Homo sapiens: one gene and its partners. The protein of the gene in region 1 purifies or fractionates together with the protein of each later gene. This does not show direct contact. Each region holds a gene or a part of one and is shown in the gene's direction. Other genes may lie near its edges.

Region 1 (4,921 bases):
AAAAAAAAAAAAAAAAAAAAGTTAAGTAGGCAGTATTTGCTTATATGTATATATTTTGTTGTTTTCTCCAAATGCTTATGCCTCTGAAGAGGATATACATTGATGAGTGAAGATATTAGGGAGGGTAGGGAGAAAGAATAGAAGTTTTTACATATAAATACAAATAGAAGTATTTAAAAAATTTTTTTTTCTTAGCTTTATCTGATAGCCTGCCTTCTGGAATTGTGAAAGGCTAACAATGAATTTGACTTTTATTCCTACTTCATTTGAAGTATTCTCTCATTGAAAACACCAGTTTGCACCATCCAGGAGGCCTTCTTATTTCAGTTATTATTGGAGTTTAAAATTTGTTTTTAGGTGTGTCGTATTTATTTCTACTTCATATATACATGTAATTATCAAGTTTTTAAAACATATAGAACACTACTATTGTTTAAACAGTTTATAAATAAGGTACTTTTATACTTAGAAAAATTGTTTTTGATATGTGCAGGTTACCATGCTAAGGATTTGAACACCTTCAGTACCCTATTTGTACTTGCGTCTATGCCTAGCATTTTTGTTACGTGCATGGATCTGCAAAGGAATTGTGGTTTGTTTCACAGCTGCATGTAGCAGGCATATGTGTGACATATTTTTATTTCAGCTATTATTTCCTGTTTTTTATTTTCAGCATGTTGGAACAGGATTCCAGGAGAATGAACCCTAGTGTGAGCCCTGCAAATCAAAGGAGGCACCTTCTAGGATTTTCTGCTAAAGAGGCACAGGACACATCAGATGGTATTATCCAGAAAAACAGCTACAGGTAAGATGGCATGCATCTATCTTTTGGCCTAAGTGATTTAATGAAGCTGAAACAAGAGAATTATCTGTAGTATAACATTGCATCTAAATTGTTCGTGTATATTTTGAGTAGTAGAACACATAAATTACTGAAACCATTAATACATTTTACTTTTAATATTGTAAAATTAAATTTACTTTGAAACCTTTTGTAGTTTTAAAATTCCTATAGAGATGTAATCTTAAAATCTCAGTTTGTGTGCATTAATATACATATTGAAATATATACATATTATATATAATGTCTTTAATAATTATTTTATCTATCATGTGTTTATACATATAATACATCTAATATTTGTTACTGTCTCACCTGTGGATGGATATGATATGGTGGAATAACATGATTGAACCTATTTGCAGTCATTAGGTAAAATCATTTATACTCATTTATTGTGATCTTTGTTGAATCCCTCCCTTGTTGCAATTTAATAATGACTTGATAAATTTCCATATTGCTTGTCAATAGCAAAAGGCTTTAATTGTATAAAAATGCAATTTCTATATTATGTTAACTAGAAGAAGGTATAGTGGACATTTTTATAGTTGTATACTTTTTGATAAACATTTCCCTGTGTTATTTAGAATTTGTATTAGAGCCAAATGGAGCCAGGTCCTTGACTAACAAGGCAAAGGGAGGTCACAGTATGGTAACTATTGCACAGTATAATGCTTGAAAATTATTACAGATTTGTTTACTTTTATCTCTTTAAGGATTTGTAGGTTGAGGGCAATCTTTCTTCCTGATTTTTACTGTGTTACATCCATACTGTTGAAAGATGATCACCACAATCCTGCAGGCTTGTCTCCACTTAGCCTTCCTGAAAAAACTGTTATTTTTGTGGAGTACAGTATGCCAAGTCAGTGGAGGACCCAAAGGATTTTATGGCAGTAGCTGCAACGCAACATAGCAATGATAGATGTCATAATGTTGGAAAACATAGCATTTCCTGCTTTTTTACATGCCAAAATTCATCATACTTCTTAAAATATTCACCTTGATGATCTCTTAACGGTGCCCCTGAATATTGGTAGAGTTTAATAGTATATTTAATTTTCATAAGTAATTTGTGCAGGTTTGCCCTACGTGTTCTATAATTTTGAATTCTGTTAGTGTCCACATAAGATCCATCAAAAATTAAATTTAAATCTAATAGCCTTTGGATTTACGAGAGTTGAGATAGCGTCTTGCTAAAGAATAGAACAAGTTATGGATTGAATGCTTGAAATTACAGTTCAGGTAAGCTTTACAAGAATATTATTTATTCTGCACTAACTGCAGCAAGTAGAAGCCTTCCACATTAGCATAAGATAACATGGTGGCTCCCAGAAAGCATAGTAGTCTGATCATACTAGTTCAAACTAAAAGTCTGAATGACTTTCTGGCTGAAATTTATCAGCTTTCAGAGTAGTACATGGGATGCAAGCTATTTTTTCCCTCCCTTCTCCAAAGTCACCATTGAGTGAATAATCTGGGTTACTGGTCTTGGGGAAAAAAAAAAACCAAAAAACAACCCAGGAAAGATTATGGATTCTTGATTCCATGCAAGTCCTTTGAAATATTTTTCAGCAACTTGAGAGATTTAAATAAATGTCAGTCCATTAATTTGATGTTCTTGATTTTATCAGTATAAATACTGAATAAAAGATACCAAAAAATGTTTGTGAAACATTTGAAAGCACCTAATATTACTTTGTTCTGTGTTCTGAACTGAATTTTAGATGTTTTATCTATTTTCAGCCGTGATACCTATACATTTTTTTTAATGCAGCTTACTTTATGTTTCTTTTTCTAAGGAGAGCTATGAGACATGGTTCAAATAAAAAATGAGTAGATTCTAATCCCATAGTTTATAATATTGTATTAGCCTATCATTTAGTAATTAACTGCTTATATTTTTTCAGTCATAGAAATGTGTGGCATATAAATAGTATGACCATATAATGTTCTATCAAACTGGGACACTCTTAAGAAGGAAAGGTAGTGCTAGTAATAATTACATCAGAATACCAGTACTGCTGTCTTGGATAAATGAGAAAGGATGGTCACCCTATATAAGATGTCACCCAGAACTGATCTTTACTCCAAGAATTCTCATTAACTCTAGCTCCCTAGCACTGTCCTTTACTTTATTTACTTTAATGATTTATTTGTTGAATTTTTTTCTCTTGGCATAAAATGTTTGCAAGCAGACTCGAACTCTGACTGTTCCTGGGCTAATGTTGGTCTAATTGTCTCCAGATTGTATGTTGGCTGATTTTCTCTCTCCTTTAACTCCACCCAATCCTTGTCCTGGTATTTCTCCTATCAGACTTTTTTTTTTTTTTTCCAAAGAATATTTTTGGCTGATAGAACAAAGCCAGTTAGCACAGATGTGCAGAAATCATTACTAGAGTTCAGATCACAAATATATTTTCAAAAGCAGTTTTGGACTTTTCTCATGGACTACAGTGTTTGTATTTTTCTAAGTATGCAGGCATGATTTTTAAAATAATGCGTATGTCATAGATTTATAAGAAGAGGTGTTAAGCAGCCTCCTCTTAGAGGCATTCAGATTTATCAAACACAAGACAGATACTTTTTTTCCTTCTCACTCAATGCTTCATTTTAGGCTGATCCTTTTGTGTTTGCATTCATTACCTGTGCACCAACATGTCTGTTTTATTCCAAACAACTTAAACCTACTTAACCCTTACAGCCACAAGAGAGGACATTGAGAATATTCCTGGTGCAAGTTGCAGGGAAGAATGTTCTATATATCCTCTGCTATTGTTTCTTTTCTCTCGTGTGTGGCATAAATAGCTATCTCTAACTTTTAACTTGAAGTTAGCCTTCCACTCTGCCAGAGTTATTTCTGTTAAGGGGCCAGTGCTTTCTGCCATCTTACTTGCCCTTTCCTCAGCATTTGGCTGTGTGGGTCATTTGCTCCTTGAAAGACTTTCCTTTTGTGTTACTATGGTTTTTTAGTTTCCTTTTTTTATTGGCTGCTGCTTCACAGTAATCTTTGTGGGCTCTTTTTTTACCCAACTCTCAAGGTTTGGAACTGTAAACTTTTTTTATTTTCTTTCTGCCTAGGTGACTCATCTATAATTTCATGCACAGTTCATATCTATATGTCCTGATGACTCTCAAATTTATGTTTTCAGTCCAGACTTCTCTTCTGAGTCTCCAGAGTCACATATCCAATAGTCTCTTTGACATCTCTGTTTTAACATTTCAAACTTAACATGTGCACTGTGGAACTCAGTTCCTCTCCCTGTTTTACTTCCAACCAATTTTCTACAACTGTGTTTTTTCCTTTCCATTGCTTAAGCCAGAAATCCTGATTCCTGTCTTTCAACAAGTGTTGTTGATACTCTTCCCCAAAATTGTCTTGAATTGGTCCACTCCTCTCCGTCTCTGCTGCCACAAACCTAGTCCATGCCATCATCAGTTCTTGCCAGGATTGCCATAGCTCTTTCCTAATCAGTGTCTCAGCTTCCCCTTTTGCCTCCATTGAGTCCATTTTTGGTACCATGGCAAGGTATGAATGTAAATTGAAATATATCACTTCTTTATTTGAAACACTTTTATGACTTCTTATTACATTTAGTAATTCCTTATTATGACCTGGTCTTTTATTATGACCTTATTATGATTCCTTTCCAGCCTCATCCTGTTCCCTCTCTACCTCCCCACTTGCTTGCAACTCTTCAGCCAGTGGTCTTTTTAAAGTTCTTTGAGCCCACCTTTCCCCCACCTGCCTCTTTTATGCCTAGAATGCTCTTACCCCAGTTTCTATAGAGGCGGCGTCTTCTCATCATTTAGGCCTTGATGTAACTACCATCTCCTTCTCGGACCATTTTATCTAAAGTATATACTACCATTGCTTTTCCATTTCAACCATTTGTTTGTTTCTTTCATAGCACTTACTAGAGTTCGGATTATTTTATGCATTTATTTTCTTCTATTTGGTCCATCTTCCCCATTAAGGTCTTTGGGGACAGAAACTTTGATTCTCTCATTCCCTACTGGATTCTCAGCACCTAGCACAATACCTGGTGCACAGTTGGTATGCAGCAAGTATTTGTTGAATGA
Region 2 (4,921 bases), on another chromosome or scaffold:
GCTACCGTGATAAGGCACTGCACGCCGGGGGCTTAAAGCAACAGAAATGTGCTTGTTCAGAGTTGTGGAGGCCAAAAGTCTAAAACCAAGGCCAGAAGGGCCACATTTTCTCTGGAGACTCTAGGGGAGGGTCCTTCTTGCCTCTTCCAGCTCCTGGTGGCCGTGGGCGTTCCTTGACCTGTGGCCACATCACTGCACTCTGCCGCCGTCTCCACGTGGCTGTCTTCCTCTGTGTGTCTTCCGTATTCTCTTCTTAAAAGGGTGCCCATCTCCTAGCACCCATCCAACTCCAATCTGACCTCATCTTAGCTGAACTAATTACATCTGCAAAGATCCTTTCTCCAAGAAAGCTTACCTTCTGAGGTTCCGGGAGACATGAATTGAGGGACACGATTTAATCCAGTACACACGTCGCTCTCCTCCGTTAAGCCCCAGGAAGCTTCTGGGCCCGACCTTGCAGGCCCCCATGGGCTGCACAGAGTACCTTGTGCCTTCCAAAACTGCTCTGGGTGACACGTGTGTCCTTCTGCCTGGGATGCCCCCTCTCCCTGAACCCCGTGTTCTCCTGGGGCCTTCCATCAGCCCCCGTGGCTCCTCTGGGGGGGGCACTCTTCTGGCCATACGCCTCTTCCTATGTGATTTACACGCCACCCATGACCTGCCTGCTCCCAGCCAGGGAACTCCAAGAGAAGAATTCCCTGGTCACTTCTGTGTTCTCACTGCCCAGTGCGAGCAGCAGCAGGGGGTCTTTGGAGAGGAGTCAGCTGTGCCCATCCTTTGATGGAATTCTGTTTCCCTGGCCTTGTCCTTGTTAAGACCTCAGTCAAGGAGCCCAGAGAATGTGGGTGCATGGAGAGGCCACCTTCTGGGTCATGTGATCCTGGTCCTGGCCCCACCAATGAGATGCTTGTCTTCAGTGGTCCTGTTCAATGTTTAGGGCTGCGACAGACCAACACCTCTCAGACCAGGTCTCAGAGGCCGTTTGTCACCATGCCTCATCAAGCCGTTCACTTGTTCCCCTCATGGAAAGGGTCCGTCTGCTCTGGTACCTCTGGCACCTGTGCATCAGAAGCAGCTGGAAGCTGGCCAGGCCATGCACTGATGGCAGGAGCTAGACCAGCAGTTCCCAAAGCATGTTCTCACACACTGCTCCATCATAGACTTCATCATGCCCTAAGGAGTGGGGAAAAGCTTTGTCCACATCCCTTGTGGGTGATCCCAGGGATTCCCAGCACAAACAAGGCATCTTTTTCCTGTTGAAATGCCTTTTCCACACTTACTTAACCTCCAGAATCCTCCACAACCCTGTTTGCTTTTGGCTGAGCTGGTGTTCCATGGGACACTCTTTGGGGATCCTTGGTCTAGCTGATCCCTACCATCTCCAAGGGAGACCACAAATTCTCAACAGGTCACTGGGGGCCGTGTGAAGTCAACATGTACTGAACTTACAAGGGGTCAGAGAAGAGCCAGGGAATGAGCTAGTTTGTTCCCTTCCTTTAACCCAGAAGGATGACGGGGCTGGGTGCCATTAGTCCTGTTCACAGCTGGAGAAATTCTGACTTCTCTCATTCACTCAACAAATGTTTGCTGAATATCTTTCCTATTCCAGACCCGGGGTTTTCATCTTTTATTTAGTGAACAACCTGGTAGCTCTTCTTTTTTTTTTTCTTTAACTTTATTTTTGACACAATTTCAGACTTAGAAGAAAGTTGCAAAAAGAGTATAACATTCCCACACGCCCTCACCCAGATTGCACAAATGTTAACATGTTATGACATTTGCTTTATTGCTTTCTCTCTTTCACTTCTATTTTTTTCTAAACACTTTGAGAGTAAGTTGCAAACATGATGTTCCTTTACCCCTAAATAATGCAGTATGTGGTTCCTAAAACCAGGACATCTGCTTACATAACTACAGTACAACTGTCGAAATCAGGAAATGAACGCAGATACAATGCCATTATCTACAGATCTTACTCAGATTTTGCCAGGAGCCACAATGATGGCCTTTGTAGACAATGACAATTTCAGACCACGTGTTCTATTCAGACGTCATGTCTTGCCTCCTTAATGTGAAACAGCTTTTCAGTCTTTTTCTGATGTTTTTAAAGAATACAGGCCTGTTATTTTGTAGAATGTGCTGTAAGCTACTCTAAGTTTTTTTAAAATCTGAATAAGATGCATTTCAAAGCTTCATATTATACTGGTAATTTAGTCCTATAAGCAAAAATTGCCTCCTTTCTCCTCCCCTCTCTCCCTCTCTCTCTGTTTCTTCCTGTAGTTCTTCTCCCTGACTTTATGAGAGTGCCCTGAGTGTATGTTGGGCACTCTGGGGAGCACTGAGGTTGTACAGAATCAGTGGGAGTTTACAATGTGGAGAGATTGGATTGGTTCTGTCTGCAGCTGTCACAGGGGACTTCATAAGGGAGGGGACATTTGGAATGGGGCTTTGAAGGCTGCCTAGGAGCTCACTGTCCTAGGACACCATTACTTGTTTGCATCTGTTTCAGCCTTTCCTGCTTCTGGGTATCTGCCCCTGGCCAGACAAGGCACCCCTTGAGGTCAGGATCTGGTTTTTTTTTTTTTTTTTTTTTTTTTTTTTTCAGACAAAGTCTTGCTCTGTCACCCAGGCTGGAGTGCAGTGGTGTGAACTCGGCTCACTGCAACCTCTTCCTCCTCTGTTCAAGTGATTCTCCTGCCTCAGCCTCCCGAACAGCTGGAATTACAGGCTCATGCCACCACGCCTGGCTAATTTTTGTATTTTTGTAGAGATGGGGGTTTCACCATGTTGGCCAGGCTGGTCTTGAACCCTTGACCTCAAGTGATCCGCCCACCTCAGCCTCCCAAAGTGCTGAGATTACAGGTGTGAGCCACCATGCCTGGACTTTTTGTTGTTGTTGTTGTTGTTTTTAAATCTCTGTCTCTACCCCTGGGCAGAGAGTAGTGCTCCGAGACTATCTGTCTGTCAAATCAAGGAATGGAAATGTGCTTAGTGTGAAATGCTGACTTTGCAAATATGTTGTTTTGAATAAAGCACTTTATTTTTTCCAGGTTGGAAAGTGCGATTTTTCTCAATGAGGAAGAAAAGTCATTCTTCAGCGAGGGCTGCTTTTCTGAGGAGGATGCCAGGCAGTTGCTGAGGCGGATGTCGGGCACCGATGTCTGCAGCGTGTACAGCCTGGGTGCGTGTGGGCGATGCCTGTGGTGGGGCCACTGCCCTCCCCTTTCCCTTCTGCAGCCCCTGCTGCCCTCGTCCATCCACAGATAGTGCCAGCCCCTGGATGCTGAAAGGTGAACAGACAGAGGCTGCCGCTGCCTCCAGGGCACATAGGGGCTGCAGACAAGCCAGACAGGAGAGAGGATGGGTGAGGAGCTGAGGGCGTGGGAATGTGGCCCCTGAGACTCCTGTGGGCACCAGGGAAGCCCTTCCTGCCCTGACCCCAGGCACCTGCCTGAGACGCTGGGCGAGGGAGAGGGTATGGGTCTGGTTCTAATTTGCCAGCCCTGAGGGCTCCTGTTTGGGGCCCAGCCCTCTGCCCACTGCACTTTGCCTGGGTGAGAGTGACTTTTCTCCTTGTCACAAGAGAAAGAACCCAGACTGTGGTGTGGCCTGGTCACCTGGCTGCCAGGGAGTGTCATGGTGGGACCCCAGGGCTGCCGTCTCCTAAGGACAGAGATAGTCCCTCTGACCTCAGTGCCCCTCTGTGTGCAAAAGCTTTCTCTGGGGGCTGCAGTGCAACGCATAGATGAAGTTGGCATGTCATCCACAACATAAAGAAACATGGCAGAGGCCGTGCTATCTGCTGGGTGTAGATAAACACAAATGTGTGGCTACACACCCACTTTTTTTTTTTTTTTTTTTGAGACAGAGTCCTGTGCTGTTGCCCAGGCTGGAGTGCAGTGGCATGATCTCGGCTCACTGCAACCTCTGCCTCCCGGGTTCAAGCGATTCTCGTGTCTCAGCCTCCCAAGTAGCTGGAACTACAGGCACGCGCCACCACACCCTGGATTAGTTTTGCATTTTTTTATACAGACAGAGTTTCGCCATGTTGGCCAGGCTGTTCTCGAACTCCTGAGCTCAGGTGATCCGCCAGCCTCAGCCTCCCAAAGTGCTGGGATTACAGCTGTGAGCCACTGTGCCCAGCATCTACACACCTACTTGTATACCTATGTGCACATGTACAAACACAGACATAAACACACAAATACGCATGTAAATACACACTGTGTGCATGCACACATGCACTCACAAGTATACACACACACACACCCACCCATGCAGACATGTGTGCACATGTGCCTGCAGAGGTGTATACACACATACACACATGTGCATGCACCTTCCTCACAAGGTGTACACGCACACGTACATACATATCCATGCACCCCCTCACACACATATGCACACACATATATAAACAGATACATTTCCACACACACTTTTTTCCTGCTTGCTCGATGACATGCATTACAAGACCTTTTCTCCCACCAGTATTAGAGTTAACATTTGTAGATCCCACAAATCAACTTCCCTTCCTGAATGGACAAACTTAGACTTGACCTCAGCATATCAAGGCTCAGACCCCCTGGATGGTATCTCCTGTCCTTTTTAGGAAGCAGGTTTGGGACCCTCCACACCGTGGGGTGTTGTGGGCAGGGGCATTGCAGGGTGCAGGTGTCATAAGTGGGGGTGTTGCAGGATGCAGGTGTTGTGAGATGGAGGCATTGCAGGGTGCTCCCCAGAACTGCACACCTGTTATCGCAGTTCACAGCGCTTGACGCTGTCCACATCTCCACATCTTTTTACAGCTATTTCTCACTTGACCTCCACGGAAACCCAGTAAGCAGTTAGTGTCAGCCACTTTACGGGGGTGAAACTGAGACCCGGTAGCTGCCTGCCCTGGGATGAAGAGGGTGGGGGT
Region 3 (4,921 bases), on another chromosome or scaffold:
GAGTTTCAGTTTTGCAAGATGAAAAGCGTTCTGGAGATGGGTGATGGTAATGGTTGCATCACACTATGAATACACTTAAACTACTGAGCTGTATACTTAAAAATGGTTAAAATGGTAAGTATTATATATATATATATACTTCAATATTTTTAAAAGCTAGTATGTTCATCATTCTTTCGAGTGCTTCCTACATGCTAGGCACCCTGCTAGATTTACATTCAATATCTCATTTAATCTTACAACCATCCTATGAAGCAAGAACTATTATTATTATTCCCATTTTACAGGCAAGGAAACTGATTAAAGCCATTAAGGTTACTCAGTCATAGAATTTGAACCCAGGTCTGTGAGTGTTACCTGTGAGGCACTGAATAAAGACCGTGAGGCAAGCAGGAAATCTCAAGAATTTAGGAGAGGATAAGGAAATGTATTTTATTTCAAAGGAAGTGAATGATGCTGTTAGTAGAAGTACAAACTAGTTTGACCTTTTTAAAGGACAGTTGGTTAAATACATTTGTTTCTTTGAGCACAGAGAAGAAAGTGAAATCCAATTTCATTTGTAAAAGTCTTCATTTTATTACAAACAAAATAAGAGCCAGAGGCGTATTTTAATAAAACAATTTTCACATTAATTTGTTTCTATAACGATATATCTTAAATAGTGACCTCGGTTTTCCTAGTAATAATTTTAAGAACCATCAGGTTCATAGAGGCTCATTATTTGCTCCTTTTCTGAGAAAGGCAAACAGTGGAAAGTGTTGGAAGAATGAAGTGGTTTCCTTTTTATGAGTCACCTAGATTGAACTAGTTCTTGTAAATCTCTGTTCTTGTTCAGATACATCCATTAATGGGATAAATTTTTCTTTTGCCTTTTTAAAGGGTATGTCCTTTATTATCTGCTGTACATTTATGCCAGGTATTAATATCTGTTGATTTTCAAGATTTATATTGTGTTAAGAATTACTATTCTTAGCCACATGTAGGTAGGGCCTGTTACTCAGGCAAACATGATTGAAACCTTTTAGTTTTCTCCTCCTACATCTTGGTAATGGATACTTTAGCATTTGCTTTACAGTTACTTTAAAAGCATTTCCTTTTGAGACACTGTAAGCTACAGTACAATATTTGTTTGATTTACCATTAATTTGTAAAATCAGTGTGTTTCTTAATACATTGTTTGGGTACGGTAAAAGGAGTTTTTATTACTGTTTGTTTTTAAATAGGAAATTTGTGTTAAAGAAGCTGAAGTTGTTTTATGTGGAGGAACCGAAAGCATGAGCCAAGCTCCCTACTGTGTCAGAAATGTGCGTTTTGGAACCAAGCTTGGATCAGATATCAAGGTTGGAACCATAAAAATTTAAAAGAATTAGTTCTTATTAGCATTATATAAGTACTTTTAATAACATACCTTTTTATGGGAGAGAAAACTAATTTTGAAGCCAATTTCGTTGATGAGGATTGGCAAGATATGAATGATTAGAAGTTTGTAAACTATTTCAAAACTCTATTTTGGTGGTTAGTTTTGACATTTTAACCCATATGAAATTAGATTCTATCTATCTCAGCAGACCTCTAGTAGTATAATTATCCTGTGTAAGTGGCCATAGGCATGGGAGAGATGGAGGAAGGGAAGAAGTGGATTAAAAAGATAGACAAAAGAGTGAATTAATCTCACTACTAAACAATTAGTAATCTGAGTAATTAAATCTTTAACGTGACTTATAGAAGTTTTATTTCTGGGACAGTCTCAGAATAGATTTCTTCATCATCACAGAAAACATCTTTGAATACAGATTATATTGTCCCAAATCAAACAAAAACTGATTCTTTTATCTTTGAGAGCTACAACTTGAGAATGATGGTACAGTACTGATAAAGAATGATGTTTTCTTCTCATTCCCATGTGAAAGGGCTACTGACATTTTATATTTTTTAGCATTTTCTATAGTAATGTTTGACTCACACTGTTCACCCAGTTTCTCACCTGGCCTTTTTGGAAGTTGAAAGGAATGGGACTTAAGAGAATCTATGCGGATTTTAGCCACCAAACACATTTGAGATATCTTTTATGAAGACAGGTCAGTGAGTTAAATGTTGATGAGGCAGCAAAGTGGGGCACACTTACCAGAGACTAACTACTTGAATAATAATTAACAACCTTTCTGTAACTCTGGGAACCTGTCCCAAGATCTTTTCAGCCTCATAGTAACCGATAGAACCAGCTATTCCTGTCACTGAGGCGCAGGATGAAAAAGAAAAACAGATAATACTGTTTATTACAGAGCTCAGGGCTGGTTTACAAAGATGGCTATAAGAAAACATTGCATGAAGACTCATTGTCAGGTTTTCTACAAAATATGACCTTGAGGATTTAATTTTTGATCGTAGGGTAACTTCTGTGATCTCACCATGCACGTCTAGTCCTGTTAGCTGTTCTTAGACCCCCACATTTAGAGAGGGACAGAGAATGTGTGCATTTTATTTTGTGACATTGAATGTTTTCAAAAACATTGCATGTTTTTAAAAAATATCCCATAACTGAATATGAATAGTGGTTATCAGAAAGTCTTAATTTTACTTTTGTTTATTGGAAGTGTTGATTATTTAAAGAAATTATAACATATTACTTTTAAAAGGAAATGCCTTAACAAGTCACTTTATTAATGTCTTTTAATAGCTGGAAGATTCTTTATGGGTATCATTAACAGATCAGCATGTCCAGCTCCCCATGGCAATGACTGCAGAGAATCTTGCTGTAAAACACAAAATAAGCAGAGAAGAATGTGACAAATATGCCCTGCAGTCACAGCAGAGATGGAAAGCTGGTGAGTGAAACTGGAAAGTATCAGTATCTATAGAATAAATATCTATAGGAAATATTTTCATCATTTCTATTATGGTTATATAATATTTACAAATCATACCTTTAAGAATTATTACATCTTTTCATTATTCCTTTGTCTTTAGATGATCAGATATTTTATTAATTATTGCAAAATTAACTAGGAATTTCTCTTTTGAAAAAGTTAGTACTACTTAAAAAGTGGTATTGCTACTTGACCCTAGATGGACCCTTGAGTTTTGTGCTGAACTGGTCCTGTTGTCAGTAGAACATGATGAGGAATACGATACGTTCTGTCAGAGGTGATAGCTCACTGTGGCAACTGGAATATAGAGGATGTCCTCTCCCACAAGCCATATCATAATCATAAGAAGGGGTAATGTATTTGGAAAAGACCCACTGGGTCTTTTATGCTTTCCTTCTGCCACTCCTAATTAAGAATCATTGTACCTAACTCAGAGACTTAGAACTAGTCCGAGACTCTAGTTAGAGTGCCCTGGTGTAGCACAGCAGGTTGCTATAGAGCCGGTCCAAAACAGGCAAATGTGACAGCAGTTCTTTTAGCAGTGCAGCAAGTTGAAGAAATGTGATATTTAAAAAATTAAACTGTTAAAGCAAGTGGAAACTCTTATTTAGGAATATTAAATGCTTGAAGTAATGAGGATAAAGTCCATCTTAGCATTTCAGAAGGATAAGTGGAATAGAGCTGATGCCATCTAACTCGTGTGTTTTTTTACTTATATGTTCATAGTGGAAGAGGATTGGTCTAGAAGTCAAGAGTTATCAGTTCTGTTTCTACTTCTACCACGCACAAGTTATCAAGCTCAGTCATATCATTTATTCACTGAACCTCTGTAAGATAGAGATAACAATATTTGCCTTCCCTATTTATCTAATAAGGTTGTTTTAAAACCAAATAAGGGCATATAAGGAAAGTATTTTGCCAATTGTAAAGTGATATGAAAATTAAGGTTAGTATTATTCCTGACCCTATTTCCAAAGCTATAGATTACTACAGTACATTCTAGTCAGTGGAGGTCAAAGTAGGTAAGATGTTTTACTTATAATTGTATTAGTGATTGCTCCCATAATTTCTTCAGGTTGCCTATCACTATTAAGTTTCAGTTAGATTACTTTGTGGCATAGACAACTTGGTAACTTTTTAATTGCTTATCTCACCAAAAGAAGTTTAAAAGGGGTATTAAGTCCATTTATTGCCATTACATCTATAGCAAACAGACAGATGCTGCTAACAGTCTTAGCAGTACCTGGTGAAAAAAAATTGTGGTTAAAAAAATATAATTTTTAAAAATATAATTTTTAAAAGATGCAAAATGCATCTACATAAACACATGACAGTATCGTAAATCCTCCAATACGGAAGGTAAGTTGTGTAAGTAAATAGTAAAGACTCTATAATTTTTAAAAGATGCAAAATGCAACTACATAAACACATGATGGTATCGTAAATCCTCCAATACGGAAGGTAAGTTGTGTAAGTAAATAGTAAAGACTCAGGCTGAGCGTGGTGGCTCATATCTGTAATCCCAGCACTTTGGGAGGTCAAGGAGGGTGGATCACGAGGTGGTGAGTTCGAGGCTAGCATGGCCAACATGGAGAAACCCCATCTCTACTAAAAATATAAAAAAAATTAGCCGGGCATGGTGGTGGGCACCTATAATCCCAGCTACTGGGGAGGCTGAGGCAGGAGAATCACTTGAACCCGGGAGGCAGAGGTTGCAGTGAGCCGAGACTGTGCCGTTGCACTCCAGCCCAGGCGACAATGTGAGACTCCATCTCAAAAATTAATAAAGACTCAATATTAAAGTAGACTGTGAGGAAAAGGTAGATCAGAAATTAAATTGAATAATATGTTTGATTTATTTTCATGTTTCTCTCTTTTATTCTTATGATAGTCTCTCTACTATTTTTCAGCTAATGATGCTGGCTACTTTAATGATGAAATGGCACCAATTGAAGTGAAGACAAAGAAAGGAAAACAGACAATGCAGGTAGACGAGCATGCTCGGCCCCAAACCACCCTGGAACAGTTACAGAAACTTCCTCCAGTATTCAAGA
Region 4 (4,921 bases), on another chromosome or scaffold:
CCCAACCAGGGTCCCCTCGGCATGCATAGGGCTGACTCTAACCCCAGGCCTGAGCACACAGCCTGGAGTTCCTACCCTCTAGGGAGCTGTGGCTTCAAGATCTTAAGCAGTAAGAGCTTGGAGGAGTCTTAGAGCTTGTCCAGGGCAAAATCCACCCTCTACTGATAAGGACCCCAGGATTGAGAGCTTACCTCTATGGGGGTCACCTCGTGTATGCAGGTGGAGTGGAGTGGGGCCCCTGCCCAGGTCTCCTCCATTGCAGTCCACTGGCCCCTCTCCATCCAGGCGCCATGTTTCCAATTCCCCCACCTGGAGCTCATCCTTGTCTCCCTCCTGGGTTGGGTATGAGTGAAGGGTCAGAGTTGAGATTTGATTTGAGCTCATCCCCATGGCCCCTAGATCCAGCACTCTTCCCACAAGACCTTATTTTTGCTGCAGCACTGTGGCCTTGACAGCATTCACTTGTATTTTTATGAATAATGATGACCACTGTCACTTGTTTGGGCACGTGCTGACCATCTGTATAAAACTCTGGACTAACCCCCTTTAGATAAAATATTTGTGATCCTCGAAGCATTCTGAAAAATGCTACTATTTTTAATTTCCAAAGAGGAAAACAGGTCTCAGAGGGTTAAGTAACTTGTCCGAAGTGGCTGAGCTGGGGTTAAACTCCTCTGACCCTGCAGGCCATGCTCTTGTCACTGCTCAAAGAACATCTTCCTTCCCTCCCCCACACCCACATTCCCTTATTCCTTCACACCGTCTGTCACTCATTCATTCACCCATTCATTCATTCCTCAAATGCTGTGAGCACAGGCTGGGTATGAAGCTGGGGCTGCATGCTCAGCTACCCAGACACACGAAGCAGGGTGGCCACCCTCAGTGAGCCCACAGTCTCACGGGAGGCAGAGCAGCTGGGATGCTCGCAGAGGGGCCCTGAGGTACAGTGAGTCTGGAGCACCCGCCTGGTGGGGAGGCTCAGGGTGGCTTCATCACAGGGTGACATCCTCATCACATACCCCTTTGATGTGTCTCACAAAAGCCTGGAATGACCAGTTCCTGTGCCTCCGGGTCTTCGTGAATCTGAAAATGCCGACGGGCCCTGTTCAGGCACCAGCATTGAGGCTGTGCCCTGTGAAATTGCAGTGGTCCCTGGGCTGCCAGGGGTCATCACAGGCCATCCTCTGGAGGGACTGTGCAGCACCCTGAAGACAAGAGAGGGGTCCACAGTGGGATACCACAGAGGGTCTGTGCGGCACGTGGGAGGTGACAGGATGCAGCCACCTGGCCTGGGTTCTCTTCCTGCCTTAGAGGAAAAACGGAGCAAATCCTTATGAAAATTCCAAGAATCTCTGGCGATATCTCCAAAGGGCCACAGTTAAGCTGGCTGGGAAAGGTTTAGACGAGGGGAGAGCAGGAGCTGGGGGCTGGCAGGGTCTGGGATATAGCTGCTGTGTGCCTGAAAAAGCCGGCAACTGTGGTTGGTCCAGGAGCTGTGATAATAGCCCGTGAAGTCGTGGCTAGGTGGGAGGGAACATCAGGCTCCAGTGTGACCGTGAGATCACAGCTTTGAGCTTTCGAGGAGATGGGATCACTCTGGCAAAGGATAAGGGAACAAAAGATGGAGGCACTCATAAGGCCTTGCGCAAGTTCAGATGGTCTGCGAGAGGCAATGAGGTCCCCACCTTAAAATGCAGACACCTGGCCCGGGGATGGGAAAGTCAACAAGTGGCTTTTTTTGCAGGAGGACTTTTTGTAAATAGCCCAGAAGAGCCCAGCCTCAGCAGGATGGTCACTGAGGAGGAAATCCAGTTCTATGTGCAGCAGTTCAAGAAGTCTGGTTTCAGGTAAAGAGAGCACAGGGCCCAGACACAGATGAGAGATGATCGACAGATAGGGATCTTCAGCCCTCAGGGTGGAGGGTGAGGCCCAGTTCTCCTCCACCACAGCCCTCGTTAGTGCCAGGCCAGCCTCTGCTTCAATGCCTCCAGTGTCGGGAGGCTCACTACTTTATGGTGCTCAGCCTGCTCTAGTTTGGGATAGCTCAGCTTGTTCTTCCTTATGCTTATGGGGCCCCCATAGGGCAGAGGGTTTTCACTACTTTTTAGTCATGGCTCCTCAGAGAATCAGATGGCAACTCTGGGCTCTTTCTTCAGAAAAACATAAAAATCCACATAAACTCAAAAAGTGCATACATTTTGGTGCATTTGCCCTACTTCCTGATGTCATATTAGGAGGGGGCATCTTTGCTCCACCTCCCAATGTCCCTCTCAAGTGGGCTCCCTGGGGCAGGCGAGTGGCCTCTGGATGGTGAGGCTGCTAAACCAAGTTCCCCACCATCAGCAACCTCCCCAGCCTCCAAGGTGACACGATGACATTCCCTGGAGGGTCCTGTAGGGCCGGCTTCTTTGTGTCCCAAAAGCCAACCTAGAGGCTGCCAGTTCACTCAGTGGAGTCCTGTGTCCTTGCACAAGGCCTTGCTGCTAGAGCTTGGCAACTGCGCCCGACAGCAAGGCGTGGGTCCTGGGCTCTATTCTCTTGCCCCTGCAGGAGGCTTTGCTCTTCCCAGGACGACTGGCTGTGCAGAGCAGGTTTCTGCTGGTGTCTGTAGCAGAGCCGTCTACTTACTGCCTCCCTCTTTTTACTTTCTGATCTCTCCCCAGAGGTCCTCTAAACTGGTACCGAAACATGGAAAGGAACTGGAAGTGGGCTTGCAAAAGCTTGGGACGGAAGGTGAGTGCCAGGTTCAGTGTAGTCTCATCCACACCCCAGGACCCGCCCGCGGGGCTTCCCATTGGCCTGAGCTGATATGACCTGGGCCAGAGCTGGTTGTGGACAGATCTGCTGGCCACCTCCTTTCCCTTTGGGGTTTGGGAAGTGACTCCCTTCAGGGGTTTCCCTAGGATCTTTCTTGCTGGTGCTTCTCTTGGGATGGTAGAGGGTGACCTTGGGGATGGAGCTGGGGTGTGTCCAGGGAACTGCAGCATCCATCCGGAATCCCCAGGTCCCCTGGTGGTACCCCAAGGCAGGGCTGCAGATGGCCTGGGGCACCTCCCAGAAGTGACATGGATACTGGAGCCCCCAGCCCAGAGGAGCGTTAGGTGCTCTCAGAGATGTGACTTTAGCCTTCGGTTGTGTCACCTTGCACAAGTCAATCTCTGAGTCTCAGTTTCCTCATTTGTCAAGCAGAAGATGAGTTTCCAATCTCTGGGTCTGCAGAAGGAGTAATGGAGGTTCCCAGTTTACATTCAAAATGTTTAAAAATCTAAGGGAAATCTGTTCCCCAGTGTGACTGCACAGGTAGCTAGGCCTTCATCAGCTCACTCAGTAGCCATGGTTACCTTGTTGGTTCACTCTGTAAGTGAACACACTGCTACATGCCAGACTTCCTGCCAGACCCTGGGATACCATGGTGTGTAAACAGACCAGGTCTTGACCTCCCAAAATTAAGTCTTGAGGCACTAGAGTATATAACATCGTGGTTAAGAGCAGGCTAGGAAGCACATGGGCTGAGTCTAATCCCTGTGTGACCCTGGGAAAGGTACTTAACCCCTCTGATCCACTGTGGCTTCTTCTGCAATATGCAAGTGGCAAGAACAGTGCCTCCCTCACAGAGCTGTGTAAGGATGAAATGGTTGAAGGCATGTGACCTGTTACAAGCAGTACTGGGAACCTATTAGCTCCATTAGTGTTCCTTGTCATTATCATCATATGACCGATGAAAATGACCAAACTGCAGTTGGACAGACAAAATCTCTCAAAGCGTGGAGGAAAATATTGACAAAGGCGCTGGGAAGGTGAATCCCAATGGTGCTAAGGTCAGAAACCCTCCTCTTCTGCAGTTTATTTTTTGAGACAGTCTTGCTCAGTTGCCCAGGCTAGAATGCAATGGCACGATCTCGGTTCACTGCAACCTCTGCCCCCTGGGTTCAAGCAATTCTCCTGCCTCAGCCTCCCAAGCAGCTGGAATTACAGGAGTGCGCCACCACACCCAGCGAATTTTTTGTGTTTTAGTAGAGATGGGGCTTCACCATGTTGCGCAGGGTGGTCTCAAACTCCTGAGCTCAGGCGATCCACCCACCTCGGCCTCCCAAAGTGCTGGGATGACAGGCGTGAGCCACTGCACCCAGCCTCTCTTCTGCAGTTTCCAGCTGGATCTTCCTCTCTCCTCCCCCACCTCCTCCCATCCCATCCTCTCCCCCCCCCGCCCCCCGCCCAGTTCACATTTTAGCTTGGAACTTTCTAGAGTTTACAAACCTCATAGAAGCCTCAGGATTCGTTTTAGCCACAAAATCATTTTTGACCTTCTCCTGGCTCCTGGTTGTGGGAGGAGGGAGGGGTGTGGAGAGATGCCCATCACTCTGGGTGTAAATGAAAATAGTGCACGTTCCTCAACCAGGGATGGGTCAAAGCTGCTTGGAAATTAGGGTAATGGTGGAGCGAGAACAAAGGAAAAAACACAGAGGCTTTCCTGGCCTTCCTGTGCATGCCTCCCTGTGTTCAACTCATTTGCCAGCAATTGGAAGTTACTTTGCTGCCATTCATGTCACATTGATTACTACTGTGGCTGCCCCCATTTTCTCTGGAACCTTGGTCGCCCCTTTTAAGCATCTATTTAATTCAGGGAAGAGGAATCTTGATCTTCATTCAAGGGTGTCTTCTGCCTTCTTGGTGCCATCAATTCGGTTCTCCCAGTTACATGCAGCTCAGCACACGTTCTCACTCACACACATCTGCACACATAAGACCCATATTGGCCTCTGCACTGCTGAAGCTGTTATTTTAAAGATCTCCAGTAATAACCACGAGTCTGTTGTGCAAAGTTCGGCAGATACAACGTCAGGACCACAGCAGGGTGGCGAGCAGGGGTCTTTCAGAGGAGGAGGGAGGGCTTCCTTTGTGGAGTGCTGGCCACTTCTGT
Region 5 (2,612 bases), on another chromosome or scaffold:
AGTCGACTCAGTTTCCCCTATTTTACAGATGAGGAAGCCAAAGGTCTAGAGAGGAAAGAGACCTGCTCCCAAGAGCCCAGAATTTGTTAAAACCAAACACTGGAGCTGGGGCCTGGCTCCTTCAGCCTAATGTCCAGTGTTCCACACTGTAGCACCTGTGAAATTTATATATTGATAAATCTTGAATTTCCTTAAGTAATTAAGTTGAAGTGAGTTAGTATGTGTTCATTTTCAAATTGGAAAAAGTCAAAATTTATCTTTCAGTATTATAATGAAGGGTTGCATTAAAAAATGGACTTTATAACAATATATTAATACCTACATATACTTAAGTCTGTTTTACTAAAAATTGTCATCATGTATTTTGCAAACTTGATGAATCTATTCCCAGGGTGGCTCATAAGAGTACATGTTACGTTCAAAGAGATTTTTAAAAACCAAGAAAAGGTGTTGGTTGCTGATCTCTGCCATAATTTTTTCTAATTAAAATTTCTATTGAGATAATTGTAGATTTACATGCAATTATAAGATGATTTTTAAAAATCATATTTATGTTTCAGGGATGTGATTAAATAATCCTTTATAATGTGTTAGAAAATCAAATTACCCAAAAATTGTCCATGTTTTTTTGGAATGAGGGTTGGCAAACTAGTGCCCACAGGTCAAATCCAGCCTGCCACCTATTTTTATAATAAAGTTCTATTGGAACACAGCCATGCCCATTAATTTACAAATTGTCTCTGGATGCTTTTGTGCATTGACGGCAGAGCTGAGTAGTTGTATCAGAGACTTGAAAACTCGAATATGGCTCAAAAGCTTAAAATATGTACAGAAATATTTTGCCAGCACTGATTTTAAAAACTGTACAGTGATCAAACCTGGCCGTTTTATCACAAAACAATTTTTATATTTTCAGTACGTGATGGTTCAAGACATGCTCTCTCCATCCCCCATGGAACGACCTGAAGCTATAAACATCATTGAAAATGCTGTATTTGAGGACTTGGACTTTCCAGGAAAAACAGTGCTCAGACAGAGGTCTCGCTCCTTGAGTTCATCGGGAACAAAACATTCAAGACAGTCCAACAACTCCCATAGCCCTTTGCCAAGCAATTAGCCTTAAGTTGTGCTAGCAACCCTAATAGGTGATGCAGATAATAGCCTACTTCTTAGAATATGCCTGTCCAAAATTGCAGACTTGAAAAGTTTGTTCTTCGCTCAATTTTTTTGTGGACTACTTTTTTTATATCAAATTTAAGCTGGATTTGGGGGCATAACCTAATTTGAGCCAACTCCTGAGTTTTGCTATACTTAAGGAAAGGGCTATCTTTGTTCTTTGTTAGTCTCTTGAAACTGGCTGCTGGCCAAGCTTTATAGCCCTCACCATTTGCCTAAGGAGGTAGCAGCAATCCCTAATATATATATATAGTGAGAACTAAAATGGATATATTTTTATAATGCAGAAGAAGGAAAGTCCCCCTGTGTGGTAACTGTATTGTTCTAGAAATATGCTTTCTAGAGATATGATGATTTTGAAACTGATTTCTAGAAAAAGCTGACTCCATTTTTGTCCCTGGCGGGTAAATTAGGAATCTGCACTATTTTGGAGGACAAGTAGCACAAACTGTATAACGGTTTATGTCCGTAGTTTTATAGTCCTATTTGTAGCATTCAATAGCTTTATTCCTTAGATGGTTCTAGGGTGGGTTTACAGCTTTTTGTACTTTTACCTCCAATAAAGGGAAAATGAAGCTTTTTATGTAAATTGGTTGAAAGGTCTAGTTTTGGGAGGAAAAAAGCCGTAGTAAGAAATGGATCATATATATTACAACTAACTTCTTCAACTATGGACTTTTTAAGCCTAATGAAATCTTAAGTGTCTTATATGTAATCCTGTAGGTTGGTACTTCCCCCAAACTGATTATAGGTAACAGTTTAATCATCTCACTTGCTAACATGTTTTTATTTTTCACTGTAAATATGTTTATGTTTTATTTATAAAAATTCTGAAATCAATCCATTTGGGTTGGTGGTGTACAGAACACACTTAAGTGTGTTAACTTGTGACTTCTTTCAAGTCTAAATGATTTAATAAAACTTTTTTTAAATTAAGTATGTTGACTCTTATTTTGAGGAGTTAGTCCCAAAATGGTAGATTTTCTAATTTATAAAATGGGATCATAGATCTAGGAAGAGTCATAAACCTATCCTCAAAAAAACTTCTTCCTAACCCATTTCAGACAGGTATCTTTTTCATCATTTCCCAAAGACTTGGCAGGCCCTTTCAAAATTCACAAGATCCATAATTGACAGACATTTGCCCAGTACCTACCCTGTGCCAAGGACTGAGAATATAGAGGACTTTCCCCTAAAGGGAGAGCTCTCAGAGAAAAGGGCTGTGGTGATGCTAGTTGTATTGATACCGAGGTGTATCTGACATGTGCCACATCGAGGCATGTGGCAGGCTGGGCTGATGGGGCATGAACCAGCTAGACACAATCTAGAAAGGTCAAAATGCATAGCATCTCCATATTACAAACAAATAATGTCTGCCACGCAAGGTTATGAGCAACTTGTACGCTGGAAAAACACTTCCCAGATCTTTGTGGCTG
Region 6 (3,685 bases), on another chromosome or scaffold:
ATTTTAAAATTATTCTTATTATCTAATTAACTAGAGGAATATGTTTTTTAGAAAAAATATTAGATAATATAAATACACGGTTTTTTACTTTTAAGTTTTTTACAGTTCTTCGCATCTTTTAATTTACAAGGTTTTGTTATTAATAACTGGTGAAAATTATTTGTCATTACTACAAAGGCAAATTAATGTATGTTTTAAATCATGTTTCTATTCCAGTCGCCAAAACTTTACCCAGAGTCTGCCTCATTTAGTACAGATGTGGAAAAGTTTGAAATTGATTCTTAAATGTGACTTTTAAAATCAAGTATCACTAACTTGTAGTCATATTTCATATCATAAAGTGTTCATGGAGAAGCAAGTTTTCTGAGAAAAATCTGGCTAATAGAAGGAAAGGAGATGAAGGGCCAGATGACTAAAAAGCATACTCTGGCTGAGCCAGGTGAATTTTGCCTGATATCCTGGTAACTTTTGTAGACATTTCTTCTTAAATAAGCACTTGATTTTGATTATAAAATTCTGTACCTAGATTATGTCTATAAGACAATATGGAAGGTTGTACTGTGCATATATGAACTTAGGTGATAAATGCTGATAAAGTGTAGCATTTTTTTCCCTGACTAGTCCATGTTCTGTAAGTGAATAACAATATACATTGTTCTAGGTACATCTTTCCTGGAACTTTTTCATGCCAACATCCATACTTTTTTTCATATTGCTTTGGCTATTGGGAAAATAAACTCTTGCTCTCTTTTGAAAAATATTTTTCCTAAGGATTCTTCTAGAACAGGGAGGAATTCTTCCACAGAATATTCAGGACCAGAACCAAGATCTCAACCTCTGTACATCTTGCCATCCTGACAAGTTTTTCTCCCATGTCCGAGATGGCCTTAATTTTGGTACACAGATTGGCTTCATATCAATTAAAGAATGAGGTACAGTAGGTTTTCTCTCCTCTCTCCGTTTTTCCTCTCTTTCATCCCTCTCTCCACTTCTCCCTCCCTTTCTCTTTCTTCCTCTTTTAGCCTATTCCTCCCCTTATTTAAAAAAAAAAAGTTAATTATGTTAAACTTTACTCCTTTATTCCTACAGGGAGAATGATGTTTCTACTTTTTTAGTGATGTAATAGTGGTAGCAACGTTCATTTCCAATAACACTCTATTATGAAGAGCAGCCACTCCTTTTCCTAGTTAATGAAGAATAATTAGGCAGGCTTATGTTAAAAGTATAAAAATAAAACAATTTAATCTTTAAAAAGGTATGTAAGTATTTCCTTTCTCTCTACTATGTACTTGATATCTGTACATTCCCTATCCTCACATCCTTATAACTTTCATGTTATTTTTGAAAACAAATCTTTGCATAAACATTCTGAATTCTAGAATCATAAGAAATTCTCACAAAGAAACTAGCTTGATTTTCAACTAGATTTCCAAATGATTATCTGCAGTTGGAGTTGCCCAAATTTTTATTTTAAAATGACAGTAAGTAGTTTAGACTTTGTGGGACATACAGTATATCTCAGCTACTCAGCTTCGCCATTGTAGAGGTAGAGCAACAAGAGATACTGACAACATAGAGATGAATGAATATGTCCGTGTTCCAATAAAACTTTGTTTACAAAAATCAGGCGAGGGAGCCAGGCACAGTGGCCCTGCTCCTGTAGTCCCAGCTCCTCGGGAGGCTGAGGTGGGAGGACTGCTTTAGGCCAGGAGTTTGAGTACAGCATGGATAACATAAACCCTGTCTGTAAACAGTAAAATAAACAGGTAAGGGGCCAGATTTGGCCTATAGGCTATAGTACACTGACACATGATCTAAAGTCATACAGCAAGACTGAGTGTAATTTTCTTAAAATAGTATTTATTAGAGATGGTTTTGTTGGAATTATACAAAAATATTTCATGGCACTGATTTAGCACTGCCCCTATAAGATATGTGTAATTTTCCCTAAGGTTACTTCTAGCTGAATTAATATTATTTTTTACTCTTTACAATGTTTTTAGCTCTTTAACTTACAGAAAAACTTTAATAGACTTCATGACTCTTACCTTGATATTCTAATAACACCAGTAAGCGTCTCATATTTGATTTCTATGTATTTTACAGATACTTGACTGGATTTTTGTATAACTGCTTCCTGCCTCCTTCCAAACTGACTGCAAGAGAGAAATTTAGCTGTTTGATTTACTTAAAACCAAATGGATTACAATGGATAATTCATCTTTTGGGTATATTTTTACTATTATTCAAAGCCAAATGATTTTCATTTAATTGTAATAATAACTGACAAAAATCAGTATGTTGTAGCTAATATGTTTTATGCATGAGAATTATTCTTAAAGTTTGTTCTCCCTGTTTATTACACAGATCAGGAATAGATTTGTTCAGTTCAGTATTTATTGGATACCCTCTATTGGTCAGGCATTGTGTTAAGCATATGTGAATCAAAATGAACACAACTTTTTCCTTTGAGTCTGATACAGTGAAGGAGATAAACACTTCTACAACTTAAATTTAATTTTAATAGCAGTAGAAGAGAACATAAGGAATAGAGGTTAATTTTACCCAGAAGCAGGATAGAGAAAATATTACAGAGAAAATCACATATCACATGGGCTCGAAAGATGTAGAGGTTTTTGACAAATGAAGAACAACCATAACAGGTAGAGGGAACACCATGAACCAGGGCATGAAACTGAAAGTGCATAACATATTCTAGAGAGAGAAGGGTGTGGGCATGAGTTAGGGCTGGAAAAACAGGTTGGAAACAGATAAGTAAGGGTCTCAAATGCAATGTCAAAGAGCTTGCAGTTTATTTTCCAGGCAATGAGTAGGCAGCCAAAAAAAAAAAAGTAAGGATGTTTTTTTTTTTTTTCCCATGGCATCATATTTAAGAGGATGGATTTAAATTGTGTGAGACCAAAGCATAGAGACTAGATAAGAGGCGATCAAAATATTTCAAAAAGAAATAATGAAGATCCAATGAAGGAAGTGGAAATTAAAATAGGGAAGAGAGTAGATGGATTAGAGAGACATTTAAGAGATGGAATCAATAGATCCTGTTACTAGATAATGGAAGTAAGAGGTGAGGAAGAGTGGAAAAGTCATTAATGACTCTAAGATTTCTGCTTGGCTGCTTACCAAGATTGGCAACAAAGGGAGGGAGAAGGTTTGGAAAAAGAGAGAAGGATAATGAGTTTGACTTTACATAGAATGAAGGGCATCCAGATAGAAATCTTTGGTTAATAATTAGAAATATAGACCTAGAAATTAGGAGGAAACCTGAGACAGAGACAAATATTTCAAAGCTTACAATACAGAGATGATACCTGATTCTATTGGAGCAGGTTTGATCATCTAGGCAGAAATTAGGATGAGAAAAAAGGAGATCCAATAATACAACCTTATAGTCACAGAAGTAAGAAAAAAAGGGTAGTTGTTTTGAAGAAGCCAGGATAGGTGTGGAAAGTACTCAAAAAGAAATCTTCAGGGATAAAATAAAGTGATAATTTAAAAGAAATCAATGGATTAAACATATTGAAACTGTTCTATAGGCAGTGGTCATTGAGTCAGCTTTCAGTGCATTAGGAAGAAGATGCATAGGTGTCAACTCTTTTCTGACAGCATTTACTAGAGAAGAGAAAAAGCTGGGGACTACATCTTCAAGGAAGGGACTTTTTTTGGA
Region 7 (3,500 bases), about 110 Mb from region 1:
TTTACATTTGTGTTCTAGGTCTTCCACAGTGTAGCTTCAAGTTACCTAATGTTTTGTTTTACCATTTTTCAAATTCTTCTCCTCTGTTGGTGGATTTATCCCATCCTTTTTTTCCACTTTCTGTTTTTCTTTATCACTTTCTTTCCCCTAGGAATACCCTGTCCATTCTGCCCCTACATTTATCTCCTCCTGTGTAAATCCTGAGACTCTGCCTAAATGTGCTCTCTCAATGAGTTCTTCTGATTCTCTCCCAGAAATGGCCACTCTTTCCATAACTACCTCAGATGTCACTTCATTGATGCGTCTTTTATGGTGCTTTTCTTCAATTTTATTTTTTGGCATTTCTCACAGTGTTATTACTGTCACAAGGCTTTATGCTAACGAGTAGCTCTCACTCATGTTTGTGTCCCCTGCAGTACCTGTCACAGTAGCTTGTATGGAGTGAGGCTCAATAAATGATTCTGAAGTTAATTTCACAGATAAAGAAATAGAGGTCTAGAGAAAGGAAGTGACTTGGCCAAAGTCACACAGATAGTTAGTGACTCCATTTGGATTAGAAGGCTTTGCTGTAATACTTTGATGTTCTAAAGAATAAATGCTTAGGATAGGGAAAATCTGTTCCTGTCCCAATAAACGAAGATTTGTGCCAATCAAAACATGCACAAGACAGCATAGAGAATGTTACTGGCATCATATGCACTAAAAACAAGTTCATCTTCAGCTTGTGGCTATAGGAATGAGGAATCACCCATTGGATTTGCGAGTGCAGTTCACAGCCAGTGCTTGCGCTCTCAACCTAACACGCCAGGGCCTGGCCAAGGGGATGCCTGTTCGCCTGTTGTCAGAGGTCACCTGTCTACTTTTCAAGGCTCTGAAAAATTTCCCCCATTACCAGCAGGTAATTTCAATTGAATATTTGTTTGTGCTTTTTTTGTTGTTGTTAATAGTCTCAGCTCTGTTGCCCAGGCCAGAGTGCCGTGGCACAATTTGTTTTTGTTTTTTTAAAGACAGAGTCTCTCTCTGTCGCCCAGGCTGGAGTGCGGTGGCACGATCTCAGCTCACTGTAACCTCTGCCTCCCGGGTTCAAGCAATTCTCCTGCTTCAGCCTCCTGAGTAGCTGGGATTACAGGCGTGCACCACGACGCCCAGCTAATTTTTGTATTTTTAGTAGAGACGGGGTTTCACCATGTTGGTCAGGCTGGTCTCGAACTCCTGGCCTCATGAGCCATGGCATACGGCAGACAATTTGTGTTTTCTAACTTTAGGATAAATATGTGAAAAATAGATATTATTTAGTTCTGGTTTTTCATCCTATTAGAGAAAGAGAATAGATAAAAGAGTGTGTTTGTTATAGAAAAAATAGGAAATATAGATAAGCAGTGAGGCTAAAATTTTCTTTTTTTTGAGAGATTTTCCTTCTTGTTGCCCAGGGTGGAGTGCAGTGGTATGATCTCGGCTCACCGCAACCTCCGCCTCCTGGGTTCGTGCCATTCTCCTACCTCAGCCTCCCGAGTATCTTAGACTACAGGCGCTCGCCACCATGCCTGGCTAATTTTTTTTTTTTTTGTATTTTTAGTAGAGATGGGTTTCACCGTGTTAGCCAGGATGGTCTCGATCTCCTGACCTCATGATCTGCCCACCTTGGTGTCCCAAAATTCTGGGATTACAGACGTGAGCCCCCGCGCCTGGCCTACACTCATTTTTATTTTTATTATTTTTTTTGAGACGGAGTCATTCTGTTGCCGAGGCTAGAGTGCAGTAGCACGATCTTGGCTCACTGCAACCTCTGCCTCCTGCCTCAGCCTCCTGAGTAGCTGGGATTACAGGCGCATGCCACCATGCCTGGTTGATTTTGTATTTTTAGTATAGATGTGGTTTCACCATGTTGGCCAGGGTGGTCTCGAACTCCTGAACTCAGGTGATCCACTGCCTTGGCCTCCCAAAGTGCTGGGATTACAGGAGGGAGCCACCATGCCTGGCTCCCTCCCCCACAACACACATTTTTAAAATGAAAAGGTAGATGATAGACTGGGAAACATGTTCATTATATATATATGAGAATCAACTTCATTCAGAGTATATAAAGAACTCAACTTGTTAATACAGTACAAATCAGTTATAAAAATGATCAAAAGATTTGAACACTTTGGTAGTTTCTTTAGGAATTAAATATACACTTCATAAACTACCTAGTCATTCCACTCCTAGGTATTTACTGAAGATAAATGAAAGCATGTATCCATATAAAGATATTTACACAAATATTCATGGTACCTTTATTTATTGCCAAAAACTTGAAACATCCCAAATGTCCAACAACAGGCGAATAGAAGCATTGTAATAAATCTATTTAGGGAAACACTACTTGGCACACAGAGATGAAGTACTGATATCTGCAGTGTAGATGAAACTCAAAAATGTTATATGTTGAGCAAAACAGGCCAAACTCAAAAGAGCAGAAGTACATGATTCCATTTGCATAACACCTTAAAAAAACTAATCTATAATGACTGTAATTTTCCGAGGATAGGGTTTACAGGGTTGAGACTAACTTGAAGAGGGGACAATGGAACTCTCTGGGGGTGATAGAAGTATTATATCTTGATTGTAGGAGTGGTTACACAGGGGTATAAATTTGTGAAATCTAATACAAATGTGTACTTTGTAAAGGGAGTTTTTTTTTTTTTTTTTTTTTTGAGATGGAGTCTCGCTCTGTCGCCCAGGCTGGAGTGCAGTGGCACAATCTTGGCTCACTGCAAGCTCCGCCTCCCGGGTTCATGCCATTCTCCTGCCTCAGCCTCCCGAGTAGCTGGGACTACAGGCACCCACCACCACGCCCGGCTAATTTTTTGTATTTTTAGTAGAGACGGGGTTTCACTGTGCTAGCCAGGTTGGTCTCGATCTCCTGACCTCGTGATCCGCCTGCCTCTGCCTCCCAAAGTGCTGGGATTACAGGCATGAGCCACCGCACCCGGCCAAGGGAGTTGATTTTTTAAAAATACAGTTAGGAAGGTGGTTTTCCTCATTTATTTCTACCTTATTTTTAAAGTTGGAAAATCCTACTCAAGTCTTCATTCCTGCATGGCAGTCATCAGTTACAGCATTAAATGAAAATTTAATGCTGGTACACAAATGAGCTCTCAATAAGAAAAGCTCACTAGTAATACTTCCAAATACATGGAATCTTTGTTTAGAATGGAATGTTACATTTGTTCAAAATTATTTTTCTTTATTCTCTAAAAGTTACAGAAGAATTGTCTTCTCTCCTTAACCAATTCCAGGATTCTTGTGGATGTTCCATTTGACAGGCAAGTATAAGACTTGGTCATTTGACTGGGGTGTTGGCCTTTGGTTATTAAATGCAGAGGCCTGATTAAGGCTGGGATAAGGTGTTTGGAGAGAAGGTTCTGTTGAGCATCTTCCACAGAGAAGTGATTAGAAGTACCCTACTAGAAAATGTTGTCTCCTAAAGTGATTCTAGTATAGGATAGTGGGTAAGA

The links.
Region 2: the proteins of ATF6 (region 1) and SH3TC1 purify together in Homo sapiens (affinity purification with mass spectrometry; one large-scale study listed by BioGRID and IntAct). This does not show direct contact.
Region 3: the proteins of ATF6 (region 1) and ACAA2 fractionate together in Homo sapiens (co-fractionation; one large-scale study listed by BioGRID). This does not show direct contact.
Region 4: the proteins of ATF6 (region 1) and EPHX2 fractionate together in Homo sapiens (co-fractionation; one large-scale study listed by BioGRID). This does not show direct contact.
Region 5: the proteins of ATF6 (region 1) and EIF2AK3 purify together in Homo sapiens (affinity purification with western blotting, with the first as the bait; one study listed by BioGRID). This does not show direct contact.
Region 6: the proteins of ATF6 (region 1) and LACC1 purify together in Homo sapiens (co-immunoprecipitation; one study listed by IntAct). This does not show direct contact.
Region 7: the proteins of ATF6 (region 1) and ZYG11A purify together in Homo sapiens (affinity purification with mass spectrometry; one large-scale study listed by BioGRID and IntAct). This does not show direct contact.

The regions. Positions count from the first base shown.
Region 1 is NC_000001.11:161,845,776-161,850,696, forward strand, and holds part of ATF6 (cyclic AMP-dependent transcription factor ATF-6 alpha), read left to right. Parts: intron 1-673; coding exon 674-805; intron 806-4,921.
Region 2 is NC_000004.12:8,219,790-8,224,710, forward strand, and holds part of SH3TC1 (SH3 domain and tetratricopeptide repeat-containing protein 1), read left to right. Parts: intron 1-3,050; coding exon 3,051-3,181; intron 3,182-4,921.
Region 3 is NC_000018.10:49,792,184-49,797,104, reverse strand, and holds part of ACAA2 (3-ketoacyl-CoA thiolase, mitochondrial), read left to right. Parts: intron 1-1,223; coding exon 1,224-1,340; intron 1,341-2,677; coding exon 2,678-2,825; intron 2,826-4,777; coding exon 4,778-4,921. UniProt on the Homo sapiens protein: In the production of energy from fats, this is one of the enzymes that catalyzes the last step of the mitochondrial beta-oxidation pathway, an aerobic process breaking down fatty acids into acetyl-CoA.
Region 4 is NC_000008.11:27,538,810-27,543,730, forward strand, and holds part of EPHX2 (bifunctional epoxide hydrolase 2), read left to right. Parts: intron 1-1,744; coding exon 1,745-1,847; intron 1,848-2,663; coding exon 2,664-2,733; intron 2,734-4,921. UniProt on the Homo sapiens protein: Bifunctional enzyme. The C-terminal domain has epoxide hydrolase activity and acts on epoxides (alkene oxides, oxiranes) and arene oxides. Plays a role in xenobiotic metabolism by degrading potentially toxic epoxides.
Region 5 is NC_000002.12:88,556,241-88,558,852, reverse strand, and holds the end of EIF2AK3 (eukaryotic translation initiation factor 2-alpha kinase 3 isoform 1 precursor), read left to right. Parts: intron 1-916; coding exon 917-1,117; 3' UTR 1,118-2,112; downstream 2,113-2,612. UniProt on the Homo sapiens protein: Metabolic-stress sensing protein kinase that phosphorylates the alpha subunit of eukaryotic translation initiation factor 2 (EIF2S1/eIF-2-alpha) in response to various stress, such as unfolded protein response (UPR).
Region 6 is NC_000013.11:43,889,343-43,893,027, forward strand, and holds part of LACC1 (purine nucleoside phosphorylase LACC1), read left to right. Parts: intron 1-771; coding exon 772-931; 3' UTR 932-932; exon of another isoform or gene 933-937; intron 938-2,106; coding exon of another isoform or gene 2,107-2,260; 3' UTR 2,261-3,685. UniProt on the Homo sapiens protein: Purine nucleoside enzyme that catalyzes the phosphorolysis of adenosine, guanosine and inosine nucleosides, yielding D-ribose 1-phosphate and the respective free bases, adenine, guanine and hypoxanthine.
Region 7 is NC_000001.11:52,863,260-52,866,759, forward strand, and holds part of ZYG11A (protein zyg-11 homolog A), read left to right. Parts: intron 1-721; coding exon 722-898; intron 899-3,243; coding exon 3,244-3,308; intron 3,309-3,500. UniProt on the Homo sapiens protein: Probably acts as a target recruitment subunit in an E3 ubiquitin ligase complex ZYGA-CUL2-elongin BC.